Regions from separate parts of the Homo sapiens genome. Here region 2 is linked to region 1. A link means that fine-mapping ties the variant in region 1 to the expression of a gene that starts in the linked region. Tissue or cell type: blood mononuclear cells. Region 1 holds a variant in brackets; the other region holds the start of a gene. All regions are shown on one strand. Distances are from middle to middle.

Region 1 (8,150 bases):
GCCACTCATCCTCATCCACAGCCAGCCACGCTGCAGAGCCACCCAGCCAGAGACACCTACTCTGGTCTCCAGCTAGGATGTTGAGGACCTGTTTCGAATGTCTTGGAAGAAGTCCTGGAATCCTCCCAGCCCCCAGGTACAAGAGTGAAGACGCATACGCTCCCTGTTTATACACCCTGACCCTTTATTTACATCCACCCATGGCAGGGGAGTCAGGTAGAGGCCCCCTTCCTCGATCAACCTAAACTCCTGATCTTGGGGTTTTCTTGTGAGGGTCTGATTTTTATTCTTCTAGGGCCTCACGCCTCCATCTTCTTCTGGTGCCAACATCATGATTTCAAGGCAAAGCTTTTCCCCAACTCCCTACCTTCTATGGATGAATAAAGTGCCCAGAGGAGGCCAGACATGGTGGCTCATGCCTGTAATCCCAGCACTTTGGGAGTCCAAGGTGGGCAGATCACTTGGGATCAGGAGTTTGAGACCAGCCTGGCCACCATGGTGAAACCCCGTCTCTACTAAAAATACAAAAATTAGCTGGGCATGGTGGCACATAGCTGTAATCCCAGCTACACGGGAGGCTGAGGCAGGAGAGTCGCTTGAACCTGGGAGGTGGAGGCTGCAGTGAGCTGAGGTCAAGCCACTGCACTCCAGCCTGGGTGACAGAGTGAGACTTGTCTCAAAAAAAAAAAAAAAGTGCCCAGAGGAGCTCTTCAGCTGGCCCAAGTCTGGCACATGTCCGTTTCTTCACTGATCACTGCCACGGGGCACAGAGCCCCTGGGTGGTGCTGTCCTGGTGCCTGCTGGCCCCTGTCCCCCAGGTCCCCCTTCTGAGTTTTTCCAGGGATACCCTAACCTAACCTGGCCAGATTACTAGAGGTGCTGCTTTATTGGCTCTGGATATGTGTATGCAGCTGCAATTCTGTGTGATATAGATGACCTGCCAGTGGGGCCCTCCTGAAGATGCCATAGTGATTAAGATACGTTTTGTTTTGTTTTGTTTGAGACAGGGTCTCCTTCTGTTGCCCAGGCTGGAGTGCAGTGGTGCAACCACGGCTCACTGCAGCGTCTACCTCCTGGGCTGAAGCGATCCTCCCACCTCAGCCTCCGGAGTAGCTGGGACCACAGGCATGTTGCACCATACCCGGCTTTTTTTTAAAATTATTTTTTGTAGAGACAGGGTCTTCCTGTGTTGCCCAGGCTGGTCTCGAACTCTTGGCCTCAAGCAATCCTCCCTCCTCAGCCTCTCAATGCACTGGGGTTACAGGCATGAGCCACTGCACCTAGCCTAAGATATGGTTTTTGACCTCAGAAAACACAGGGTCCTTCAGGGTTGTGGCTTCCTTGACTGTTTCTTTTTATTTTATTTTATTTTAGGTTCCGGGATACATGTGCAGAATGTGCAGGTTTGTTACATAAGTAGACATGTGCCATGGTGGTTTGCTACACCTGTCAACCCATCACCTAGGTTTTAAGCCCCACGTGCATTAGCTATTTGTCCTGATGCTCTCCCTCCACTCCCCCTACCATAGGCCCCAGTGTGTGTTGTTCCCCTCCCTGTGTCCATGTGTTCTCATTGTTCAGCTCCCACTTATGAGTGAGAACATGCAGTGTTTGGGTTTCTGTTCCCATGTTAGTTTGCTGAGAATGATGGCTTCCAGCTTCATCCATGTCTCTGCAAAGGCCCTTCATTCCTTTCTATGGCTGCACCTTGACTATTTCTATGGCTATTTCTGTTCTTAGGGAGGCTCCTCCCATCTCCAGTGCATTCTTCTGCCCCCCTCTTTTACTGGGAATGGCGGCATTTCTTTGCGTTTTCTGTAACTAGAATTCTCTGTGTGGCTGGCACAGTGTGATGAGCTGGCAAGCTTCCCCACTGTGGGGGAGGGCTTATCATGAGGTCTGCTGGAGGAAACTAAGAGAGCTGAGCCTTAGGGGCTTAAATGAACTGCCTGAGGGGAAGCTGACACCCAGTGGGGCTGTAACCCTGGTTGGAGAGTTCATGTCTGCACCTGGCCTCGGCCTGCGTTCTCACTTGCTCTGCCCAACTGGCTGTGCCTTCAGCCGGCTCATCACCAGGAGATTTGGGTTGGAGCTACTGCTCAGCCACCATGAGCTACATGACCTTGAAGGCCGATCTTTGATTGTCCGCAGGATAATCCTGAAGGTTCTCAGGCCATGGACCTGTGAATTTCCCTTCTTTCAGTGTCTGCATCATTGGGAACCAAGCCCCTAACCAATGTTTATTCATTCGCTCAACCAATATTTGTGGAATATCACAGCCCTAGGGGTGGGGACACAGCAGGGAACAAGAAAGACAAGAATTATTGTCCTCAGTAGGTTACTGTGGAGTGGGGAGGCTGGCAGGAAGCCACGTAACTAGAATACACGTTAGGTCAAGGCAGTATTCCCACAGAGAAGATGGAACAGGGAAGGGGAGTGAAGGCCAGGATGGGAGGTCTACGGACTTAAGTAGGATGATCTGGGAAGTAGCATTTGAGTAGAGTCTGGAAGGAGGGATGGGAAAGAGTGTTCCAGGCAGTGGGAACAGCAGGTGCAAAGGCCCTGGGGCAGAAGTGTGCCTGGACTGTCAAGACTGTTGGGCTGTGTGTCTGGAGCAGGTAAAAGAGAGATAAGGTCAGCAAGGACCTGATAAGCAGAGCCTCATGGTCACGCTGAGGACTCCAGGACCTGTACACCGAAGGGAATGACAGGAGCTGACTCATGCCCTAGCAGGACTTCTCTGTCTGCTGTGTTGAGCGCTGGTGATGGGGGCGTGGGAAGAAGTTAGGAGCCATTACAGAGGTCCCGGTGGGCCATGATCAGGACACCACAATGCAGGTGGTGAGAATGGATCGGATTCTAGACATATCTCAAGGTGGAGGACCAAGACTTTCATCTAAATCTAAACAATAGTTATGAAATGTTAACTTGAGATGGATCTATTGGAATTATTCAGATACTTCCAATAATGGATCATGAGAACCAAGAAAGGCCCTAGAATTTATCCTGATCTTCGTAGGATTTTCCCAAGGGTAGAAATGATGATGAACTGGGTGACCGTTCACAAAGGAGAGAGGATTCCCAGCCCCCAAGCCTGAAGCCTTCCCCTCAATCACCCTCAATCACCATCTTCTGTGGGTCGACCAGATGCACGGACTGTTCTCAGCCATCCCTGTGGTTCTTACGGCAATGTCTAGCTGTGGGACTGCACTGGTGCTTCGATGGCTCATAGAAGCCCCATATAAGGCACTGCTCCTGTGGGATGTGCCTGTCAAACCTGCTTGTCCACTGCCGTTCAGTTCAGCCAGAGATTGGGCCACATTCAGTCCTCGCTTCCCTGGGAGGGGGAAGGTAAGTGCGCGCAGTCCATCCGGCGAAGAGCAGGTCAGCCTACGGAGGGCTCAGCCTACGGAGGGGCTCAGCCGACACAGGTCTGATGGGGCCCGAGAGTGGTCCCAGGGGAGTGGGAGGGGCCGGCATCTTCCTCATCAGGAGTGGAGGAGCTGCCTTGTATGTGGACTAGAGAACAGAAAACGGCTTGTCTGTGTTGCTGGGTCAATCACTGGAACATTCTCTGAATGCTGAGTTCTGCCTTAAAACAGCATGGGTCATGCTAGATGAAAGGGATCTCTGTTTTATACTCTCATCTCTTCGCTATTGCCGTGGGATGAAAGACAGCAGAAGGAAGGTGTCTAAGTTCAGAACAAAGTGAGCAAGACCAGCTGGCTGCTGTTGGTAGCAGAGGCACAGCCAGCCTGTCATGGCACTGGGGGGCCGAGGTGAGCTGTGCCCCCTCCTCCTGGGCTTGTGACCCTCTGCCCCCCATGGGGTATGTACATGTGTGTGTGTGCGTGTGCGTGTGTGTATGTGTACATGCCTTCTTCCCTACTTCACTGGCAAGGGAAGAGACTGACACTTGGGTTAGGAGAAGGATGTTGACCTGGGAGGGGTCAAATAAGGAGAACCCACATCTTAGATGCTCAGGATTTTATGATCTTAGGCTCTTCTAGAATTGCTGTACAGTTAGATTCAGAGTTTGGAATTAGAGATCTCTGGGCCCTCCCCTCCCCTCCCGTCCCCTCCCCTCCCGTCCCCTCCCCTCCTCTCCCCTCCCCTCCTCTCCCCTCTCCTCCCCTCCCCTCTTCTCTCCTTTTTCAGAAGTCTCCCTCTGTCGCCCAGGCTAGAGTTGCAGTGGCACAATCTCGGCTCACTGCAATTTCTGCCTCCTGGGTTCAGGTGATTCTCCTGCCTCAGTCTCCCAAGTAGCTGGGACTATAGGTGCACGCCACCACACCTGGTTAATTTTTTTATTTTTAGTAGAGACAGGGTTTTGTCACGTTGGCTAGGCTGGTCTCAAACTCCTGACTTCAGGTAATCCGCCCATCTTGGTCTCCCAAAGTGCTGGGATTACGGGCGTGAGCCACGGCTCCTGGCGCCTTCCCATTCACCTTCCCCTTCCCCTCCCCTTCCTCCCTCCCTCCCTCCCTCCCTCCCTCCCTCCCTTCCTTCCTTCCTTCCTTCCTTCCTTCCTTCCTTCCTTCTCTCTCTCCTTCCCTTCCTTCCTCTCTCTTTCTTTTCTTCTTTTCTTTCTTTCTTTCTCTCTCTCTCTCTTTCTTTCTTTTCCTTTTTTTGAGCCAGGGTCTTGCTCTGTCACCCAGGCTGGAGGGCAGTGGCACAATCATAGCTCACTGCAGCCTTGAACTCTTGAGCTCAAGCAATCCTCCTGCCTTGGCCTCCAAAGTGCTGGGATTACAGGCCTGAGCCACTGTGCCCAGCCCTAAGGTTTTTTGTTTTGTTTTGTTTTGTTTTACTGTTAGGACTAACCCTTATTTACACTGGGACAAGTTACAAAGAAACTCCTGCAATTGTTAACTGCCATTGGAGACTACTGTAAGTTGCTTCATGGCAACTGCAGAAGGGACTAGTGACTTCTATTTAGCTCCACCCACTGATGCTTGAAGTTCAGTGTGGCTCTGGGGGCTCCAGAAGCCTGAGGGGCAGCTGGCTGGGGCAG[T/C]TGGCTGGGGTCTGGAGAGTTCTGCAGAGCCCCTGTCTTCAGCTGCTGGTGAGGCAGCTTTGGCTTGAGCTGCCCTGGCTTTCTGAGTTCAGTCTGATGGGAGGGCACAGTCAGCACCCTCAGACCCTCCTCAGGAGTCTTGTGAGGCTCGGGCAAGTCAGGGGCAGAGGGACAATCCAACTAGAGGACCCTCCCAGACCCGGTCGTTGCCACCTGGACCCAGCCCCAGGAAGGCACCCGAGAAACCTGTAGTCCTCGGCTGACCACCAGTCCTGGTCCTCAGGATATCCGCAGAGACCTGGCTGTCCAGAACTCCCAGGGTTTCAGCTGCAAGCTGGAGATGTGGCCCCTTGGCAACTCGATATAGTAAGATACTGGAGAGCGTGCCAGAGTGTCATTTGCTAGAAACAAACATTATACTGCGGTAAGCCCTAGTTTTTCAGTCATTGGCTCTTTGGCACCAACTTAATCACAAGGCCATTGGCCCCAAAGAAAGGCCTTGTAGGCGACTGTTTAGGGACACCTGTATTTTCCATCTGCCTTGGAACCTCTAGGCTCAGGCCGAATGCCTATTGAAGTAGATGTTTCGTAAGAGATTTGGGGGCAAATACTGGGATTTTATAAAGATGCTGCACTCTCCTTCACTAAGTAGAAAGCTGAGAAATCCTGCCCTGAGGGGAAGAAACAGTTGTCTTCCTGACTGATGCATCCTAGACCAGCCAAGACTTCCTCCCGCTTTCCTTCTTCTAGAACTTTCCCCACTTCAGCCAGTATCTGTCATCCCCTGGGCTCCCACCCTCTCCATGTGCCGCTTTCATCGGGGCTGAGGGGAGCAGGAGAGGAGACGTTTCTGCTGGTGTCCCCGCTGTAGCTGGAGGAGCTCGGCGTCGGCGTGCCTTCGCCTCCCCTTGCCATGATGCCCCCTAAACCGAGTCTGTATTGAGAGAGAAAGGTGGCACCGTTGATCATTACTCCAGGACAAGAGTCATAAAAGGACTGTCCCAGACAACCTAGGACCCCAGTGTTCTGTGGCGAACACTTCTAGGATGAGGCCCATCTCCTTCTCTGTTTCATCAATTGGATTAATTTTATTGTTTTCTAAAATAATGACTATGGTTTTTATTGAACCCATACTTGCTTATTCTAAACATTCTTTTTTTTTTTTTTTTTTTTTTTTTTGAGGTAGAGTTTCACTCTGGCTCCTAGGCTGGAATGCAGTGGCACCATCTCAGCTCTCTGCAACCTCCACTTCCCAGGTTCAAGCGATTCTCCTGCCTCACCCTCCTGAGTAGCTGGGACTACAGGCGAGCACCACCACAGCCGGCTAATTTTTCTATTTCTAGTAGAAATGGGGTTTCACCATGTTGGCAGGCTGGTCTCGAACTCTGACCTCAAGTGATCTGCCTGCCTCAGCCTCTGAAAGTGCTGGATTGCAGGCGTGAGCCACCGCACCAGGCCTAAACAGATTTCTTTACAATCTACCACCATGAACAGCAAGCATTAGCATTGGTGAGGAGTGTTCCAGAATCCCTCTGCTCTCTGCCTCTCCATTTCTCTCCCCCTCTCTTTCTCTCTCATGCACACACACACACACACACACACACACGCGCGCGCGCGCGCGCGGAATGACAGGACAGACTGATCGGCAGATTGGATGAATGGATGGATGGGCACATAGATTGAGGGACTCCCAGAGATAAACTAACACCATTTTATAAAAATGGTATCATATTCTACATGATTGAAATGTAAACTTTTAATTTTACTTAAATTTTAGTTCAGCTCAGATGTTGCTGGCAAAAGTTTTTTTTTATTATTTTTATTTTTTATGTACTGCTCCTTGAGGAGCTGGGCTAACTCATAGGCAGTGCATCCAGATTCGGCATTTTTTTTTTTTTAGATGGAGTCTCGCACTGTCACCCTGGCTGGAGTGCAATGGCACAATCTCGGCTCACTGCAACCTCTGCCTCCCAGGTTCAAGTGATTCTCCTGCCTCAGCTTCCCAAGTAGCTGGGATTACAGGCACACACCACCACACCTGCCTAATTTTTTGTATTTTAGTACAGATGGGGTTTCACTATGTTGGCCAGACTGGTCTCGAACTCCTGACCTTATGATCTGCCCACCTCGGCCTCCCAAAGTGCTGGGATTACAGGCGTGAACCATCGCGCCCAGCCAAAAAATATTTTTTAATTGTTAAAAATAATAATGGAATGCCAAATGTAGTAGAACAGTTTCACAATGACAAGAACTATTAGTTCCTAAAAAATCCCCAAGATTCAGATAAGAGATTACAAAAACCTTGATAAATTAGTGACATTATGTAAAATCAACAGTGCTGGGTTTGGTGGCTCAGACCTGTAATCATTGCACTTAGGGAGGCAGAGGCGGGAGGAGTGCTTGAGCCCAGGAGTTTGAGAGCCTGGCCAACATAGCAAGACCCCATTCTCCACAAAACGGAAAATACAATAAAATAAAATCAGCGTTTTGTTTTATTTTATTAATTTATTTGAGATGGAGTCTCGGTCTGTCTCCCTGGCTGGAGTGCAGTGGCGTAATCTCAGCTCACTGCAGCCTCTGCCTCCCGGGTTTAAGCGATTCTCCTGCCTCAGCCTCCCAAGTAGTTGGGATTACAGGCATGTACCACCACACCCAGCTAATATTTGTATTTTTAGTAGAGACAGGGTTTTGCCATGTTGGCCAGACTGGTCTGGAACTCCTGACCTCAGGCGACCTGCCCGTCTCTGCCTCCCAAAGTGCTGGGATTACAGGCGTGAGCCACGTCGCCTGGACTTCCTTTATTTTAGATAGCACAGGGTCATGGAAGATAAAGTGATGCCTTCCTTCCCCTACCCCCTACCCCGATTTCTACTGCTTGCATTATTTCTTAGGGTAAAGAATCTTCTTATTTGGCTGGAAGACTCTATTCCCACCGTAGTTTAGTCCTGGATGTGTGATTAAAGAAATCCAGTGGTTGCCCTGCGCTGAGAAGGACAGCCGGGCCTGGGTTCTCTCCTGGCTCAGTACAGCCCCCTCCCCACTCCTGCTGAGGACTCCCAGGGAAGCTGGAGGCAGCTCTGGGGCGTTTTCTCTGACTTCCCTAGACTTCTCTTCAGCTGCCCAAACAGTAGAGGGA
Region 2 (8,179 bases), 24 kb before region 1:
AGTTTGAGAGCAGCCTGGGCAACACAACAAAACCCTGTCTCTACAGAAAATACAAAAATTAATTGGGCATGGTGATGTGTGCCTGTAGTCCCAGCTACTTGGGAGGGTGAGGTGGGAGGATCGCTTGAGGCTGCTATGAGCTGTAATCACACGACTGCACTCCAGTCTGGGAGACAGAGTAAGACCCTGTCTCGAAAAATGTAAAAAATTTAAATTTCAAATTTTTTTTTAAAAAGCATTATGGTATTATCCCAGAAAAGCTCCTGCCCTATTCCCTTATGGGGGAAAGAATGCTGACCTCATGGAATTTTCCATAAAAACCCAAGAGGACTGGGTTCGAAGAGCTTCTAGATGGCTGAACACAGACAGTGGAACACAAGGAGGTTCCGGGAGGTGACCACCCGCCCCTTGGAGGCTGCACCCCTCCCCCCATATCTGTATCCTCTGCAGTACCCTTTATAATAAACCACTAAATGTGTTTCCCTGAGTTCTTTGAGCTGCTGTTCCAGCAAATTAATCCAACCTAAAGAGGGGATCCTGGGAACCCAACTTGAAGCTGCTTGGTCAGAAGTTCTAGAGATCCGAACTTATAACTGGTGTCTGAAAAGAGGGTAGTCATGGGGACTGAGCCGTCAACCTGCAGGATATGGCCTATCTCCAGGCAGGTGGTGTGAGTTGAACTGGAGGACACCCAGCTGGAAAAGCCCCACACCTCTGCTCACAGAAGTCTTCTTCTGTGCTGATGACTGTTGTGGTGGTGTGAGAGCAGAGGAAAAGCACAGTCTGTTTTTCCGAAATTGTGTTATATACAATTCCACATGCCAGCAAACCACTAAGCAAAGCTGGCTAAGAAAATGAAAGCCTTGGCCGGGCGCAGTAACTCATGCCTGAAATCCCAGCACTTTAGGAGGCCAAGGAGGGTGGATCACCTGAGGTCAGGAGTTTGAGACCAGCCTGACCAACATGGTGAAACCCCCGTCTCTACTAAAAATATGAAAATTAGTCGGGCATGGTGGTGCATGCCTGTAATCCCAGCTACTTGGGAGGGTGAGGCAGGAGAATAGCTTGAAACTGAGAGGCAAAGGTTGCAGTGAGCCGAGATGGCACCACTGCACTCCAGCCTGGGCAACAGAGCGAGACTCCATCTCAAAAAGAAAATGAAAGCTTTCCACAGTAGAGAACACAAATTTAAAAAAGTATTAAACCCTGTGGCTAAAGTCAGGGAAAGTGTTGGAACTGAGCGTGTACAAGCTGAGGGAAACAGTCATCCCAGAGCATCTAACTGCACTGCGCTGCCCAAATTTACATCCAGCCCTGCGCCGCACCCCAGGACAACTTACTGTGCGATGACATCTCTCCCTTTGATGATCTGCTTGATTGCTCGTTGCTGGATTGCTGATGGTTTTTCAAAACCTGCAAATAAAAACAAAAAATTAGCCCTCACCACAATGACAGCATAGAAACCCTGTACTGTGAGCTCCTCAGGGGCAGACATGGTTTGTTTTTTGAACCTGTCCTCCAGCCTAACCCAGTGTTCAACATAGCAAGCTCTCAAAACCCAGGGGCTCAATGAATTGGGCTGAGTGATTTCTACACTAACGTGGGATATTATTTGTAAAGACCAATCTCTATTTTTAAAAAACCACCAAATTGTAGAATATAGACAACAGTTTTGTTTAAAAAAAAAAAAAAATCTGGGTGTGCAGCATCTGGAAGTGTAAGTGCCAAAATGTTCCTGGCAGTTACTGCAGTAGAGGGGTGGAAAGAAACTTACTTTTTACTCTAATTACTCCCTTAGGTTTGACTGGATTACAAACAACCTATACTACTTTTTAAATTAAAAAAAAAAACAACAAAAAAACAGGAAAGTCACTCTAGCCATTGTTCTCTCCTACTAGCTAGCATTAAGTCTGTGTGTTGCTGACAGGTCTACAACTCTGTTTAACCTGCGTGGGTCACGCTGCAGGGTGTCCTATGTTGTTCTGTCTGGATGCAGCTCACTAACTACAACACCATCACACCATCTCTCTTGCAAAGCAACTACTACACCAAAGGGTGAGGCTATTTTGAAGAAGAACCACGTGTTTTTCAAGTAAATAAAATTTTATGTACAAAAACTCTATTTCAATTATTTTTTGGTAGTCTCTTAAATGTAGCTCTGCTCAGTTCTGGGGCATAGCGAAAAATAAGAAACAAAAGAAAATGTAGCACAATTTCCCATCTTAACACAAATGCAAATATAGCAGATGATTTAAACTCTTCATGAAGAGCAAGCACATAGATGGGAAACTAACAACAGTGTCTTAGGGCAGGGACTGCCTGAGTGCCAGGAAACCAGGTGGGGCTGTCAGCCTCACTGTGAGGCTGCCTGAGATGCTTTTTCACCACGCATCCTCAGCAACTTCGCTTCACTTTGTCCAAACTGTTGTGGCATCAAGAACTACAGGATACGGCCAGGTGGGGTGGCTCACACCTGTAATGCCATCACTTTGGGAGGCTGAGGCTGGTGGATCACTGAGGTCAGGAGTTCAAGACCAGCCTGGGCAACATGGCAAAATCCCCTCCCTACTAAAAATACAAAAATTAGTAGGACGTGGTGGCCCACACCTATAATCCCAGCTACTCGGGAGGCTGAGGCAAAGGAATCGCTTGAGCCCCAGAAGTGGAAGTTGCAATAAGCTGAGATCATGCCACTACACTCCAGCCTTGGTGACAAGAGCAGGACTGTCAGAAGGAAAAGGAAGAAAGAAAAGGAAGAGAACTACAGGATAAAAAATGTCCCTGTCCCAAGCATTAAACACAGGCCATTTATCCCAGATGCTGGTCATTCCCATCTATGTGCCCAACCCAACCTCTTCTCCAGGCTCTCCCTCAACTTCCTCACATCTTTCAAACATACCAAGAGACAGCTCCTGATTCTGACTCTCTGGAGTGCTGCCTACCTAGCCAAATGTTTGCAGCATCAACCACCGGTTACTCAAAACACTCCAACTCTCCTCCTTCTGTCACTCACGTTCAATCCATCAGCCAATGCTGTCAGCTCCCTGGTACTCCATCTCCAAGGCAGCACAATCCTCTCTTCCCTGAACTGCAGCAAAAGCTCCCAACTCTCTTGTTTCCTCTCCTGCCTTGCCTCGCCTCACCTCAAATCTACAGACACCCAGAAGAATCTTTAAAACTGTAAATGTGATCGTGTCACATAGCTACTTAAAACCTTCCACTGGCTTCCCACTAGATTTCTAAATGAAATTCAAATTATTCGTCACCCTACACGTCTTTGCTAGATCTGCCCCGACTAGCTCTCCAAAATCCCACCACAGGGGACTTCTTTCAGTTCCTGGAATGCAGCTGGCTAAGGGCTGCAAGGCCCTGGCACCAGCTGTTCCTTCTGCCCCAACTGCTCTTCCCTCTTCTCATAACAGTCTCCTTCATCCAGAACTCTGCTCAAATGGCACCCCCTCCTGCGAACCCCCTTACCTCTCTGCTTTACTAATTCTCTCCTCCTTCCCAGTCCCACTCTATTCAATTACCCCGCTTCAGGTTCTTCAGGTTGCCTGGGCAACCTGACAGTATGCTTTCCCCCCAAACGAAATTCAAAACCCGTAAAGGCGCAAACCCTTCCGGTTTACCGCCAAAACCCCAGTACCTAGAAAAGCTAATAGGTAGAAATCAGTTATCTGCTGAATGAAGGACGCTGAGGTGCCTCGAAGCGGCTGCAGCCCCCGACAGACCCAGCGCCGAGCTCTGCACGGGGGACACACACCGAAAGCGCCGACACAGCCAGGCGTGAGGGCGAGGACGGGGGTGGGGGTGGGGGTCGGACGTCACTGGCCCCCGAGCCTCGACCCTGACCACGACCTCCGGAGCGCAGGGCCGGCCCGGGAGTCACCAGTCTGGCCCTCAGCCCCCGGCTCGCCCCCGACTCGCCCCCGGCTGGCCCCCGCGGCCCGCGCCCGCTCACCGTAAGCGTAGATGCCCCGCAGCAGGTCCTCCCGCAGGCCCATGGTGTCGAACGTGGGGGTCACATCCACCTCCTCGCTGGTCTCGAATTCCACTTTAGTCATGTCTTCCTCTTTGAGCAGCCGCTTTCGCGCCGAGCCCGAGGTCGCCATCGTGGCCGTGGTCGCCATGATTCAGAGTCCGCGGAAGAGCACAGCGCGCGCCGCTGCCGACCTCGCTGCCGCTGCCGACCTCGCTGTGCCGCTGCCGACCTCGCTGCCGCTGCCGACCTCGCTGTGCCGCTGCCGACCTCGCTGTGCCGCTGCCGACCTCGCTGTGCCGCTGCCGACCTCGCTGTGCCGCTGCCGAGAACAGACGCCTTAAGTATGCGAAAGCGAGAGACGTGCGTGCGTACGTGCGTACGTGCGTACGCGCGACGCGGCCACGCCTCTGGGGGACGGGGCACTCTTCGTCACGTGAAAGGGAACTGGGCGTTTGCCGCAGGGAAAAGTAAGGTGTTTCTGCTCTCGCGCCATATGCAGTTCCCGCGGGATCTCGTTGAGGGCGGGGCACCCAGTTCCTTACGAAAGGGATGGAGGGGGTGGTACTTCTAAAGTTGGCGGTGTTTCGTACCGGCCGCGGGATTTCGCGGACTGGGGCGCTGAGGTTCTTTGAGCGGCGTGTGGACCTGAATTCCCTGGAAACAGGCTGGGGCCGCGAGGGGCCTCCGCTCCGGGCGGGGTCCCCAGATAGCCCCGCCTCGAATAAAAATGACGAGCACGGGTCCTCTCTCGGGCCCGCAGTGGGTGGACTGCGTCGCAGACCCGTAGTGGAGGCGCCCAGCTCGCCGGGGAGATTCGAGTGGAAACCCTCACGGCCGCCGGTGGTGGGCCCCGGCGCGGCGCTGGGCTCCGGCGGGTCTGCGCTGGGGAGGGCCAGGGCCCCTGAAGCCGGCGTCCCTCTTAGGGGACGCGCCTGGGTGTGTCTTCACCGTTTGCCTGGTGAGTTGGAGACAGGGTCTCGCTCCGTCGCCCAGGCTGGAGTGCAGTGGTAGGATCAGGGTTCATTGTAGCCTCCGCCTCAGCCTCTGGAGTAGCTGGGACCTCAGGCGCGCGCCACCACGCCCGGCTAATTTTTTAAATTTTTTTGTAGAGACGGGGTTGGGGGAGGCGGGGGTTAGGGTTGTCCTGGCTGGTCTTGAACTGCGGGGCCTCAGGTGATCCGCCTGCCTTGGCCTCCCAAAGTGCTGGGATTACAGGCATGAGCCACTGTGCCCGGCAAGCAGCTGTTATAAATAAAATACATGCTGAGCCTGCAATTTGCTCTTAATGAAGGCCACTTGTCAGTAGACGGTGCTGCTAATGCGTGTCCTGCAGCAAAGATAACCCAGACGGGATCATTTTTTAATTGCCCAGCAGAACTTTAACCAGTTGTGCATCTTAACCTGCTTTTTGTTTGTTCGTTTGTTTGTTTTGAGACAGTCTGGCCCTGTCGCCCAGGCTGGAGTGCCATGGCGCGATCTCGGTTCACTGCAGCCTCCACCTCCCGAGCACAGGCGATCCTCCCGCCTCAGCCTCCAGAGCACCTGGGACCACAGGTGTCCACGCGCAGCCACTAACCGCTTTCTTATCTGACACTTTAAGTGCTTCTTCGTACCCAGCTCCTCTAACGCCTTTTGAAGCAGCTCCATCATCTTTGAAGGGCAGTTCATGCTGTTGAGAATCATGTTTTTAACTTTGGGAAAATTGTATTTCCACGAGCGCCAGCTCTGTCCTTTTTTTTTTTTTTTTTTTTTTTTTTTTTTGACGGAGTCTTGCTCGGTTCGCCCAGGCTGGAGTGCAGTGTCGCGATCTCAGCTCACTGCAAGTTCTGTCGCCCAGGTTCACGCCATTCTCCTGCCTCAGCCTCCCAAATAGCTGGGACTACAGACACGCGCCACCACGCCCAGCTAATTTTCTGTATTTTTAGTATAGACCGGGTTTCACCATGTTGGCCAGGATGGTCTTGATCTCTTGACCTCATGATCCGCCCACCTCGGCTTCCCAAAGTGCTAGGATTACAGGCGTGAGCCACCGCGCCCCGCTATTTTGTGTGTGTGTGTGTGTGTGTGTGTGTGTGTGTGTGACAGAGTCTCGCTCTGTTCCCCAGGCTGGAGTGCAGTGGCGCAATCTTGGCTCACTGCAACCTCTGCCTCCCGGTTCAAGCGACTCCCCTTCCTCACCCTCCTGAGTAGCTAGGATTACAGGCATGCACCACCACGCCCGGCTAATTTTTGTATTTTTAGTAGAGATGGGGTTTCCCCGTGTTGGTCAGGCTGGTCTTGAACTCCTGACCTCATGATCTGCCCGCTTCAGCCTCCTAAAATGCTGGGATTACAGGCATGAGCCCGGTCCTGTCCTTTCTTATGGTCACAAATCTGGCTTGCATCGCTGGGCACATCTTTAATCCACAGCTTCTTTCTAGGAGTGCTTGAAAAGCTCTCCTTTTATGAAGGTTAATTTTAGTTAAAACCAGAGCATCCTGGCCAGGCCTGGTGGCTCACGCCTGTAATCCCAGCACTTTGGGAGGCCGAGGCAGACGGATCATGAGTGTAGGAGTTCGAGAACAGCCTGGCCAAAATGGTGAAACCCCATCTCTACTAAAAAAAAAATACAAAAATTAGCTGGCCGTGGTGACGGGTGTCTGTAGTCCCAGCTACTCTGGAGGCTGAGGCAGGAGAATCTCCTGAACCCCGGAGGTGGAGGTTGCAGTGAACCGAGATTGCGCCACTGCACTCCAGCCTGGGCGACAGAGACTCCATCTCAAAAATAAACAGAAAACCAGAGCATCCTTTTATCAAGAAGTCGGTGGATTGCAGTATTTCAAGGGTGAACAAGTAAATGCAGCCTTCTCCAAGAGTGAATCTCATTCTGGCACCAGAATTTATCCATGACAGATAATTGACCTTCTGATAAACATTCCTTGTAAGGATGCTGGTGTTACCCAAAATATTAAATATTTATAAAGCTGAATAAAATGTAAGTTCTGATACCTTCCTCACTCTACAAAGGATCATTTCGTGCCTCACACTGTTTGCCAGGCCGTGCTGTAGCGCTTTGTCGTAAAATACACACAGATTTCAATGACTTAACGTAGGAGAAGAATGTAAAATACCTTGTTGACTAAAGAAAAACAGTTAAGCTTTTAAAGAATTAAAGTTAGTTTTATTCAGAAGCCTTACTGAGGACCGTACATCCTGGCCCCAGCCCAGGAGCTCAAGCGATCCTCCTACCTCAGCCTCTCAAAGTGCTGGAATCACAGGTGTGAGCTACCAGGCCTCTCACCTTGTTCAAAGTTAAAATCTAATCCACAAACTGCTTAGATTTGTTTTCCTTCATATTTTTATGACTAGATGATCTAACATTTTACACCATTTTTCTGGAAATGTTGTTTATGCCAGGTGTCTGAACACACATCTTAAAGGGCTCTAACTTTTCTGGGGAGCAGTAGCTTTTTAGCCCAGAGTCTATGACAATGTGACAATGATGAGAGCTGCTGAGGTTTGCTGCAGTCTCTGGGTGAACGATGCTTTCTAGGGAAACAATGGGGCATAAAACAGACATGGGCTCTCCTGCCTTGAGATTAATCGCGTGAGATGGACCCCTCCCCAACACACAAACATTGTGGGACATGAGGTGCTGGAGACGGGGTTGCTCACCCAGAGCTTAATGGGTCTGTCCACCTTTGTGACCAAGAGGCCTCTTTTCTTAGAGGCTGAGGGGCCCTGGGATGATGAGGGTAAATCCACTTTTTAGAGCAGGAATCTCCAAACCCCAGGCCACGGACCAGTATCAGCACCTGTCTGTGGCCTGTTAGGAACCAGGCGGTGCAGCAGGAGGCAAGCAAGGGAGCTAAACTGAGCTCTGCCTGCTGTCAGCAGCAGCACTGGACTCAGAGGAGTGTGAACCCTGTTGTGAACTGCACATGCGAGGGATCTAGGTTGTGCACTCCTCATGAGAATCTAATGCCTGATGATGGGAGGTGGAATAGTTTCATCCCGAAACCACTACCCCATCCATCTCTGGAAGAATTTTTTTCCACCACCTGTGGAAAAGTTGTTGACGTGGCTAGACTTTGTGTCTTCACCCACATCTCATCTTGAATTGTAATCCCATAATCCCTATAATCCCCACGTGTCGAGGGAGAAGCCAGGTGGAGTAATTGAATCACGGGGATGAGTCCCCCATGCTGTTGTCTTGAT

The links. PIP is the estimated chance that this variant, and not a neighbour inherited with it, causes the effect.
Region 2: it holds the start of EIF4A3, and the variant in region 1 is fine-mapped to the expression of EIF4A3 in blood mononuclear cells (TOPMed, PIP above 0.99).

Annotation. Positions count from the first base shown.
Region 1 is chr17:80,166,706-80,174,855 of GRCh38, forward strand. CARD14 (caspase recruitment domain family member 14) reads left to right here and starts at 3,325. Exons shown (of 24, transcript NM_001366385.1): 1 at 3,325-3,351; 2 at 6,201-6,523. The variant T/C (reference allele first, on the strand shown) is at 5,015.
Region 2 is chr17:80,142,832-80,151,010 of GRCh38, forward strand. It overlaps EIF4A3 (eukaryotic translation initiation factor 4A3), which reads right to left and starts at 4,297. Exons shown (of 12, transcript NM_014740.4): 1 at 3,962-4,297; 2 at 1,341-1,413. The coding sequence starts at 4,130. RefSeq lists enhancers at 3,524-4,238, 4,239-4,951, 4,952-5,665, 5,666-6,378 and silencers at 3,876-3,925, 4,766-4,955.